Linked DNA regions of Homo sapiens: region 1 is linked to region 2. The links come from fine-mapping of genetic effects on gene expression. A gene starts in region 2. The other region holds a variant in brackets. All regions are shown on one strand. Distances are from middle to middle. Region 1 overlaps LINC02937 (long intergenic non-protein coding RNA 2937). Region 2 holds the start of AUH (AU RNA binding methylglutaconyl-CoA hydratase).

Region 1 (4,392 bases), 210 kb after region 2:
GTGCCTGTGGTAGAAAATGCTTTTGGAGGCCTGCTTCTTTCCTGGAAGTCACAGAGGAGGCCGAGGATCCATGGGATGGAAAAGATTAAAAGATGATTTAAGATCAAAAGTCCCTAGTGATATTGGAAAGGCCCTTCGAGGCCACCTGACATTATCTTGCTTGTTGATGGGTGAAGCAAGACCCCAATAGGGGGTGGGTGGTGAGTCCTTTAGGTGCCGGGTGAAGGAGCCGGTGGAAACCTGGGTGAAGCCGGATGGGTGCCACCTCCAGTTGTTTTTGCAACAGGGTGTTTTCCCAGATTGTAGGTGTTGGTGGGATGGGAAGGCCCAGAAGTGAGTTGTGCAAACAATGCAGAATTTTGTCCCCTCAAATTAACACTTGGTTTTAGTTGCAATATTTAATTTACTGTGCAGTTTTCAAATAATATTAAAAGAAGGCATGGGATTTGTACATTAATCAGTGGGAAGCATAGAGTTAAAAAGACAAGACAAGACTAAGAAATGCTGCTCTATTTTTCTGCTACTCAAAGCGTGGTCCACAGACCAGAGGCATGAACATTGCCAGGAGATTGCTAGCAATGCAGAATTTCAGCCGGCCCCACTGAGTGAGAGTCTGTATCTTAACAAGGTCCCCAAGTGACTCGCAAGCACAGGAGCGTCGGAAACCCATCATTTCAGTTACTTTTAGGCTTTGGTGTGTCTTGAAATCGCTTGGGAGGTTTCAGAATTCTGAAGCCCAGGTCCCACTTCAGAGCTCTGCCTGGGGAGAGGCCAGGTGTGGAGCCATCTGAGGGTCTCCAGATGGTTTGAACGTGCAGTGGAGGGTGAGAGCCTCAGTCAACACTGGCCTTGTTTTTGCTCTGAGTTTCACAGCCCTGAGCCCCAGTGTGCCATGTTCCAGGTAGAGTCATCTAGGAATTTGCTCCTGAGTCAGGCTGCTGAAGCCCACTGTTTGTTCCCTCTCCCTGGAAGGGTGGAGATCCAGCCCTCTCTGGATTCTCTGAACCTCTGGTGAAACTTTTGGAAGGTGTGACAAGGATTCTGACTCCAACTTCCATGGCCAGGCACTTGCATGGCAGTGAAAGAGCAACAGGATTTGGTGCTTCCCCCACTGGGTGATGCAGGAATGTTCTGGATATCAAACAGGGAGTTAGCTTACTGAGACATGATTTTCAAATCCATGAGCAGTATGCTTTCTTTAAGAAACACTTGTATAAATTGCATTACTGTGAGGAATGGTTCTCAGCACTTTACAGATATTAGCTCATAAATAACATGACAGTCCTGTGAGGTGGCTTTACAGCTCCACCCACCGAGAAGTGGAGTCAGTGTTGGTCCCCTTGATTCTGGGCCTGACTTAGTGGCCTGTCCACCAAAGTTACGGTGGAGTGATGCTACGTAACTTTCAAGGCCAGGTCATGAAGAGGTGACAGCTTCCTGCTGGCTCTCTGGAATACTCCTGGGCCACCGTGGAAGCAGTCTGACTGCCCTGATCGAGCATGGCCACCATGCTGCAAGGAAGCCCAACCAGCCCACAAGTGGAGAAGTGCTGAGGTACTGAGGTGCTAAGTGACTGTGATGGGCAGAGCCCCTGAGATTGGCAGGCCACTTGTTCCTGCATCAGATCTGGTTCGTCCTGACCAATGGGCCTTGTTTGTCATGGGAGGGGGCCACAGAAATTGGGGCCCCAGTGTAGCTGGTGTTATTCAAAGTCTGACTGGCTGAGGCCCCCTGAAGTCAGGGTAGACCCTGGGCTCTGTGCTCTCCCAGCTGCCATTCATGCTACACTTTTTCACCCATCCTTGGCCTCAGGTAGGGTCAGAGGCCTTCAGGGTGTCCACCTTCCCTTCTCCCCAAACACCTGCTGAGCATCCCACTCAGCCACACCACAGAGCTGCAGTAGGCTTAGGGGACTTTTCTGCCTGGGTTCCTTGTGGTCAGCCAAACACCAACTCTGACTCCTCATAGTGGGAAGGGTGGGATGGAAGCCAGGGGATGTCTGTTGGCAGGCACACAGCTCTGCAGGCATCTGCCAAACAGACCTTATCTGACAGCCACTATTGGGCAAAATGGTTCTCTAGACCTCAAAATATGCCCAAGAGGGGATGCCGGGAGTCACCAGCACCCAAGAGAGCACCCCGGGGACAGGGCTTCAGTTGTCGGTGAACTCCTGTCCCTTCTGCCACTGAGTCCTCCTCAACTAGGGCAACCATAGCCCCCGGAGACAGGGTGTAAGCATCTTAGCAGTGCGTTGCAGTGGAGCAGTGATGTAAATATATAAGGGAATATCTTAGAGACAATAGCATTAGAACAAGGC[C/T]GAGCCTTCAGTTTGAGACAAGGACTGGATGCACAATGGGCCCTTTAACAACATAGGTTTGAACTGTGTGGGCCACTTATATGCAGATTTTCTTCCACCTCTGCCATTCCTGGGACAGTGAGACCAATCCCTCTTCTTCCTCCTCCTCGACCTACTCCACTTGAAGACAGGGATGAAGACCTCTATGATGATCCGCCCCCACTTGGTGAATAGTAAATATATTTTCTCTTTAATGATTTTCTTAATTATATTTTCTTCTTTCTAGCTTACTTTACTTTAAGAATACAGTATATGACATATATAACATATGAAATATGTGTTAATTGGCTATTTATGTTATCAGTAAGGCCTCTGGTCAACAGCAAGCTATTACTGTAAAGTTTTGGGGGGAGTCGAAATGTATACGAGGATTTTTGACTGCATGAGAGTTGGTGCTCCTAACCCCTGCATTGTTCAAGGGTCAACTGTACTTCGAGGTACTACAATTTTAGTGATTAATTTGTCTTTCTTGTTGGTGCTTTATTGTGTGGGTTGATTTGTTTTCATGAATATGTATTGGTAAATAAAATAAAAGAGTTTTAAAAAAGGAAAGCCTAGGCTGGGTGCACTGGCGCACGCCTGTAATCCCAGCACTTTGGGAGGCCCAGGCGGGTGGATCATGAGGTCAGGAGTTCAAGACCAGCCTGCCAAGATGATGAAACCCCATCTTTACTAAAAATACAAAAATTAGCTGTGTGTGGTGGTGGGCACTACTCAGGAGGCTGAGGCAGAGAATTGCTTGAACCCGGGAGGCAGCGGTTGCAGTGAGCCGAGATCGCACCACTGCACTCCAGTCTGGGTGACAGAGCAAGACTTCGTCTCAACAAAAGCCTGTGTTAACTGCACCCATTAGCTGTGTGCTCTTCAGCAAATAACTTACAAGGGGCCCTCCACCTTTCCCTACTCATTCCCTCTGAAACTGCATTTGCAAAATTTATGACAGTGAGAGAAATCTGACTTAGTTGATTGCATCTTGCTTCTGACCTCCAAGCTGTCCTTGGTCAAGGCAGCATGGGCCAAGGTAACTTTAGGAGGAATATAGTTTATAGTTTAACTTAAAAGCAAGGGTAAAAGTAAATCCCTCCATAAAACTAACCCCCTCCTTGCTCAGGGACCAAAAACCGCCTTTGTAAGACTAATGAAGGATGACAAGATTAGAATTGTGGGAGAGGCCTGAACTCTGCCTAAATGATGGCATAATTTCTATAATCCCTTACTGCTCAGGGGTCATGTGGCCAGAGGTCACAAGATTTGTGACGTTCCCCAATTGCTCCTGTGGATACATCACTATTGTAGAACCTAAGATTGGTTTTATCTGATTTTTTTCAGACTGACTTCACCTGGACCCCTGACTCATAACTCAGCTGGTCCTGTGGTTCCACCCAGAGGTGGACTCAGTGCACAAGGATTGTTTTCCACCCCTTTATGATTTCCTCCCCAGCTAATCAGCAGCACCCATTCCCTAGTCCCCCAGCCCACCGAATACTTGAGTAATAACTTCATTTCTCCTGCATGGGCCAGCCTTACGTCAGTTAAACTCTTTCTCTGTTGCAATGCCCTGGTCTCAGTGGATGGATTTCGTGCAGTGGGCAGGAAGAACCCATCAAGTGGTTACACTTTTACCTCAGTTCCCTCCAGGACTCAGGAACTCCTCTCTGGGCCATTGTAAAGATGAGAAATAATACACATACAGCCTGGAGCTCAGTGTTATTTGGGCAAGGTTGTGGGTAAATGTTTGTAGGTAAAAGATGGGAATCAGATCTACCCAGACAGCTCTTCATGCATGCACGTTGGGGAGACAGAAAACTCACCATCCAGGGAAGGCTTTCACCCATGTGATGACTTATTTTATGAGTCAATTTGAGTGGACCGTAGGTGCTCAGATTAAACATTATTTGGGTGTGTCTGTGACAGTTTTCTGATGGGATTAGCATTTGAACCAGAAGACTTAGTGAAGCGGATGCCCTTCTCAATGTAGGTGGGCCTCATCCAACCCCTTGAGGGTCTGCACAAAACAAAAGACAGAGAACAGAGGA
Region 2 (4,392 bases):
GGAGTTCCCACCCCAACTCAGAAGGGGTGGGTCTCCCGCTTGTCCCTGGCTCCCGCCAGAGAGCGTGCAGCCCTGGCCATGCCTCCCTGCTGCAGCAGTAGGCCGTCTGGAGCAGCCGCTGCCATCTCTAGTACAGTAATTCTCATAATTTTATTTTGCCTTGGTATCCATTTTGAATATGTTTAACTTTCTCATATGAGAAGCAGGGCTCAATCACCTTTGATACAGTTTCCAGTTCTCTGCTTCCTCCCAGTTCTTCAATGTGATCCATCCAGATATCTGCTTAATGCAACTGCTTCCTGGTGACCATCTCCCTATGGGACAGGTAAATGCAGCCTGCTTGACTCACCTGTTGACCTCCATAACCCACATGGACTGTGTAGATGGGCTCCAGTGACCACCTCACAGTGACAGGGTGACTCCATGGAACTTGTGCCTGCTTGTTCTAAACTCACCAATTAGAACTTCCATGGGAAACTGCTTGGGTAACACGCTGGACCCCAACAGAGGCTTTAGCTCCACAAGTGCCCCTTCCTTGACCCCCTTCCACTGGCTGAACTCCCTGTCACCTCCAGATTTACCCTCCCTCTGGTGACCACAAGACCAAATTAGAAAGAAACCATAACAATAAAAATCACAACACCCAGCAGTCAACATGTACATCATTATCAGAAAAGAGGAAAGATACAAAGGAAGCAAAGTTTTCCTTGTAGTAAACTTCAGGAAAATTTTCCTGCATGGAACTTTACAAAAGATAGAATAAAAAGTGGGCTGTGCATGGTGGCTCACACCTGTAATCCCAGCATTCTGGGAGGTCAAGTTGGGTGGATCACTTGATGTCAGGTGTTCAAGACCAGCCTGGCCAACATAGAAACACCCATCTCTACTAAAAATACAAAAATTACCCAGGTGTGGTGGTGTGTGCCTGTGATCCCAGCTACTCAGGAGGCTGAGGTGGGAGGATCATTTGAGCCTGAGATGCAGAGGTTGCAGCGAGAGGCGATCACACCACTGCACTCCAGCCTGGCCGACAGAGCCAGAACCTGTCAAAAAATAAAAAATAAAAATAAAAATAAAAGTGCCTTCAACATCATTTTACAGCAGATGCAGTAATGGAATTCAGTCTACTTTTTGTTTCTACATTGGATAAAAGTTGAGGACATAATGAAGGATGTTTTGCTTAGGACTAAAAAATACAAGAAATTTCTGTGGCACTAGACGTATGCTCATAGCAGCACACTTTTCAAACAGTATTCTTTTTTTTTTTTTTTTTTTTTTTTGAGACAGAGTTTCACTCTTGTTGCCTGGACTGGAGTGCAATGGTGCAGTCTCAGCTCAGGGCAACCTCCGCCTCCCGGGTTCAAGCAATTCTCCTGTCTCAGCCTCCCGAGTAGCTGGGATTACAGGCGTGTGCCGCCACACCTGGCTAATTTTGTATTTTTAGTAGAGACAGGGTTTCACCACGTTGGCCCGGCTGGTCTCAAACTCCTGACCTCAGGTGATCCACCTGCCTCGGCCTCCCAAAGTGCTTGGATTACAGGCGTGAGCCACCGCCCCCTGCCCAGTATTCTTAAATGCAAGCTTTCCCATTAGAGATCTGATAAAAGCTAGGTAGCATTAATTATACTGCAACGTGCTTTGATGAGTACCTACACACTAAATTGATATCCCGAGTTTCTGGAAGAGCTACATACTCTAAATCCCATCTCAGCGTATGGCTTGTTTGAACCCCTGTAAGACTCTTTCCGTCCAGGAAGGGCCATGGGACATCGGTACGAGTGGGTGGGCTGGAGAAAGAACTCCTTTGCCTGTTTGCTGTTCTCATCCTTTTCCTGAACGCCACGTAGTAAACATCATTTATGCTTATCAGGGACGCTAAACCAACAACCTGAGATCCATAAGTAAGGCAGTGACCAACGATGGGCTGCCACACTTTCAGCCAACTTGAGGAGACAAAACTTTTTTGTTCACTTTTGCAGCTTACTTAACACAGGACCGCAGGGCATGGTCCAGGGAGTACGGGGAGATAATTCCCTCCGGGTGGTTCTTATAGAAAAGTCTTCCCTGAATTATTCCATAACCTTGGAAAACTACTTTCTTTCCTTTTGTATTGGACAAACCATCCAATCTCGCTTGGAGAATGGGGCAAGGCCTCGGGTCACCGGGCTTCGGCGGGGCAGTGAGGGGCGGGAACACGGCTCCGGAGGGCGGGGCCAAGCCGGAGCGAGGCGGCGGGTCCGGACGCCGTGCGCGTGCGCGCGGCAGGTCGGCGCCGGGCGGGGGCGGAGCGGCCGTCGCAGGTCCACGCCGTAAACAGACAACATGGCGGCCGCGGTGGCGGCGGCACCTGGGGCCTTGGGATCCCTGCATGCTGGCGGCGCCCGCCTGGTGGCCGCTTGCAGTGCGTGGCTCTGCCCGGGGTTGAGGCTGCCCGGCTCGTTGGCAGGCCGGCGAGCGGGCCCGGCGATCTGGGCCCAGGGCTGGGTACCTGCGGCCGGGGGTCCCGCCCCGAAAAGGGGCTACAGCTCTGAGATGAAGACGGAGGACGAGCTGCGGGTGCGGCACCTGGAGGAGGAGAACCGAGGTGAGGTGCGAACGCTGGGCAGGCGCGGGGCAGCGGGCGGCCGCTCGCTCTCAGGACGGGCATAAGGTGCAGCGTCCGCCGGCAGGACGCGGGGTCGAGGTCAGGCAGGCGCACCGAACCTGGGTCCCTCCCCTTTCTCACCTCCCTACTCACCCAGCGTGGCCGCTTCCTTGTGCACCTATTTCTTGCTTTTAATAACCTAAACGTGTACCCCCGAGCAGCTTACCTGTAAAGTGACCGCATTCAGCGCGGCAAACAGAAGTGCAGCTTACGCCCTCCGCTCCAGACAAGCCAAGGTCAATATATACCCTGGGGATTTAATCCTTGCTACCAGGCTTTATTGTTGCTGTGTAATGGCTTTCTGTAAACTCAGCTATTAGTGGTGGAGTTGTAAAAGCTGCGGTGAAACTGCCTTTTATTATTACGGAGAATCTTAAATTTGAAGCTGCTCAGCTGGAACAATTTTTCCTCTTGTTCATTTTCTCTTAGAAAGTTAGTCTTGAGGGACTGTTCCACTTCATTTAAACAATTTTGAGCACTTTTTATTTTCCTCAGCTCTGGCGATAAGAATGTGGATGGTATGGATCTTGCCCTTGAGCTACCTTCTACGGGAGGAGACATCATTAGCAATACAATACAGAGCTTTGAAGGCTTTGAAGGAGGCTGACAATCCTAGGGAATACTGTTACAGCTCAGTTCCTTTCACTGGCAGTGCAGGGAAAAGCTAAAAGGGTCGTGAAGGGTGGAATAGCAGTTTCCACCCTTAACCTCCGGGTTAAGCCAGAGGACCAGTGTTTTAATTTTGACATGCATTTGTTGAGCACCTATAATCTGTTAAGCAGAAGTGAAAAGCGTGTAAGTCGTGATTGGTTTTAGTGTAGTGAAGCAGATCCTGGTTATTAGTAGGCTGTGTGAACTTTCAAGGCATGGTAAGAGGAAAGGGCTGTAATACCTGCAGGGTTTCGCCATTTGAAAGGGGTTCCAAGGCATTCTTTAATAGGCAGTGGATTTTGCCATTTGTGAGGGTTCTTGGGCAGACTTATCTCACGTGTAAAACAGGAAAAACAATACCAACTTTATAGGTTTGTTATGAAGATGAGATGAGATTGTTAATGTAAATTGCCACTAGCACGTAGCAGTGCTTCAGGAGTGTGATGAATGACTTTATTCCTTACTTATTATTCCAGACAGAGACAAGAACATGGTCAAAGGCATGGAGATGTGAACATGTGTGGTGTATTTGGGACGTAACATAAGGCAAGTGTGGCATAAGCAGAATAGTAAGAAATTCAGCTGGAAGCATAGACTAGCACTGGAGTGATTAGAGCCTGAATGCCATCATCTTTTGGGTAAGCTTAGTCATGCCGGGACTTCACTTCCGTTAAGTGTACCAACAATATGTTAGATATAAAGGGATTGCAAGTACAGCTACTAATATGCACCATATTCTATTTTTTTGGTCGTTATGACTTGAATGCAATTAAAGGAATATTTGTGCAGAATGTCTGGACAGACTTTAAGTTAGGATCTGAATGGACAGAAGAGAGAATATCAGATAATAAAAGATAATAAACGAAAATTTTTTTGGGTATCATGGTTTCTTTTTTTTTTTTTCTTTAGCCTTGATTTCCTGATGAGATAGGACATACATCATGGTTTCTTAAAGTTGACCCCGCCTCCTTTGAGAATTGGCAAGAATGACGACTCAGGCTTGGCTAACATTACCTAGGCTTTGCTTTGCTTTACTGTTGAACCAGCAATAAGCAGTGCAAAGAAAAACATGAGGTCAAGGGTACTACAGGTGAAGG

What was found. PIP is the estimated chance that this variant, and not a neighbour inherited with it, causes the effect. A credible set is the group of variants that fine-mapping cannot tell apart.
Region 1: its variant is the best candidate, but not a certain one, in a credible set for the expression of AUH in whole blood (GTEx, PIP 0.54).

The regions. Positions count from the first base shown.
Region 1 is chr9:91,152,500-91,156,891 of GRCh38, reverse strand. The region is part of intron 1 of LINC02937 (long intergenic non-protein coding RNA 2937); the gene reads left to right. All of the region lies in intron 2 of LINC00484 (long intergenic non-protein coding RNA 484), which reads right to left. Among named protein-coding and RNA genes, the nearest start is that of LINC02937, 8.6 kb to the left of the region's middle. The variant C/T (reference allele first, on the strand shown) is at 2,318.
Region 2 is chr9:91,359,820-91,364,211 of GRCh38, reverse strand. AUH (AU RNA binding methylglutaconyl-CoA hydratase) reads left to right here and starts at 2,294. Exons shown (of 10, transcript NM_001698.3): 1 at 2,294-2,584. The coding sequence starts at 2,323. RefSeq lists a silencer at 2,124-2,563.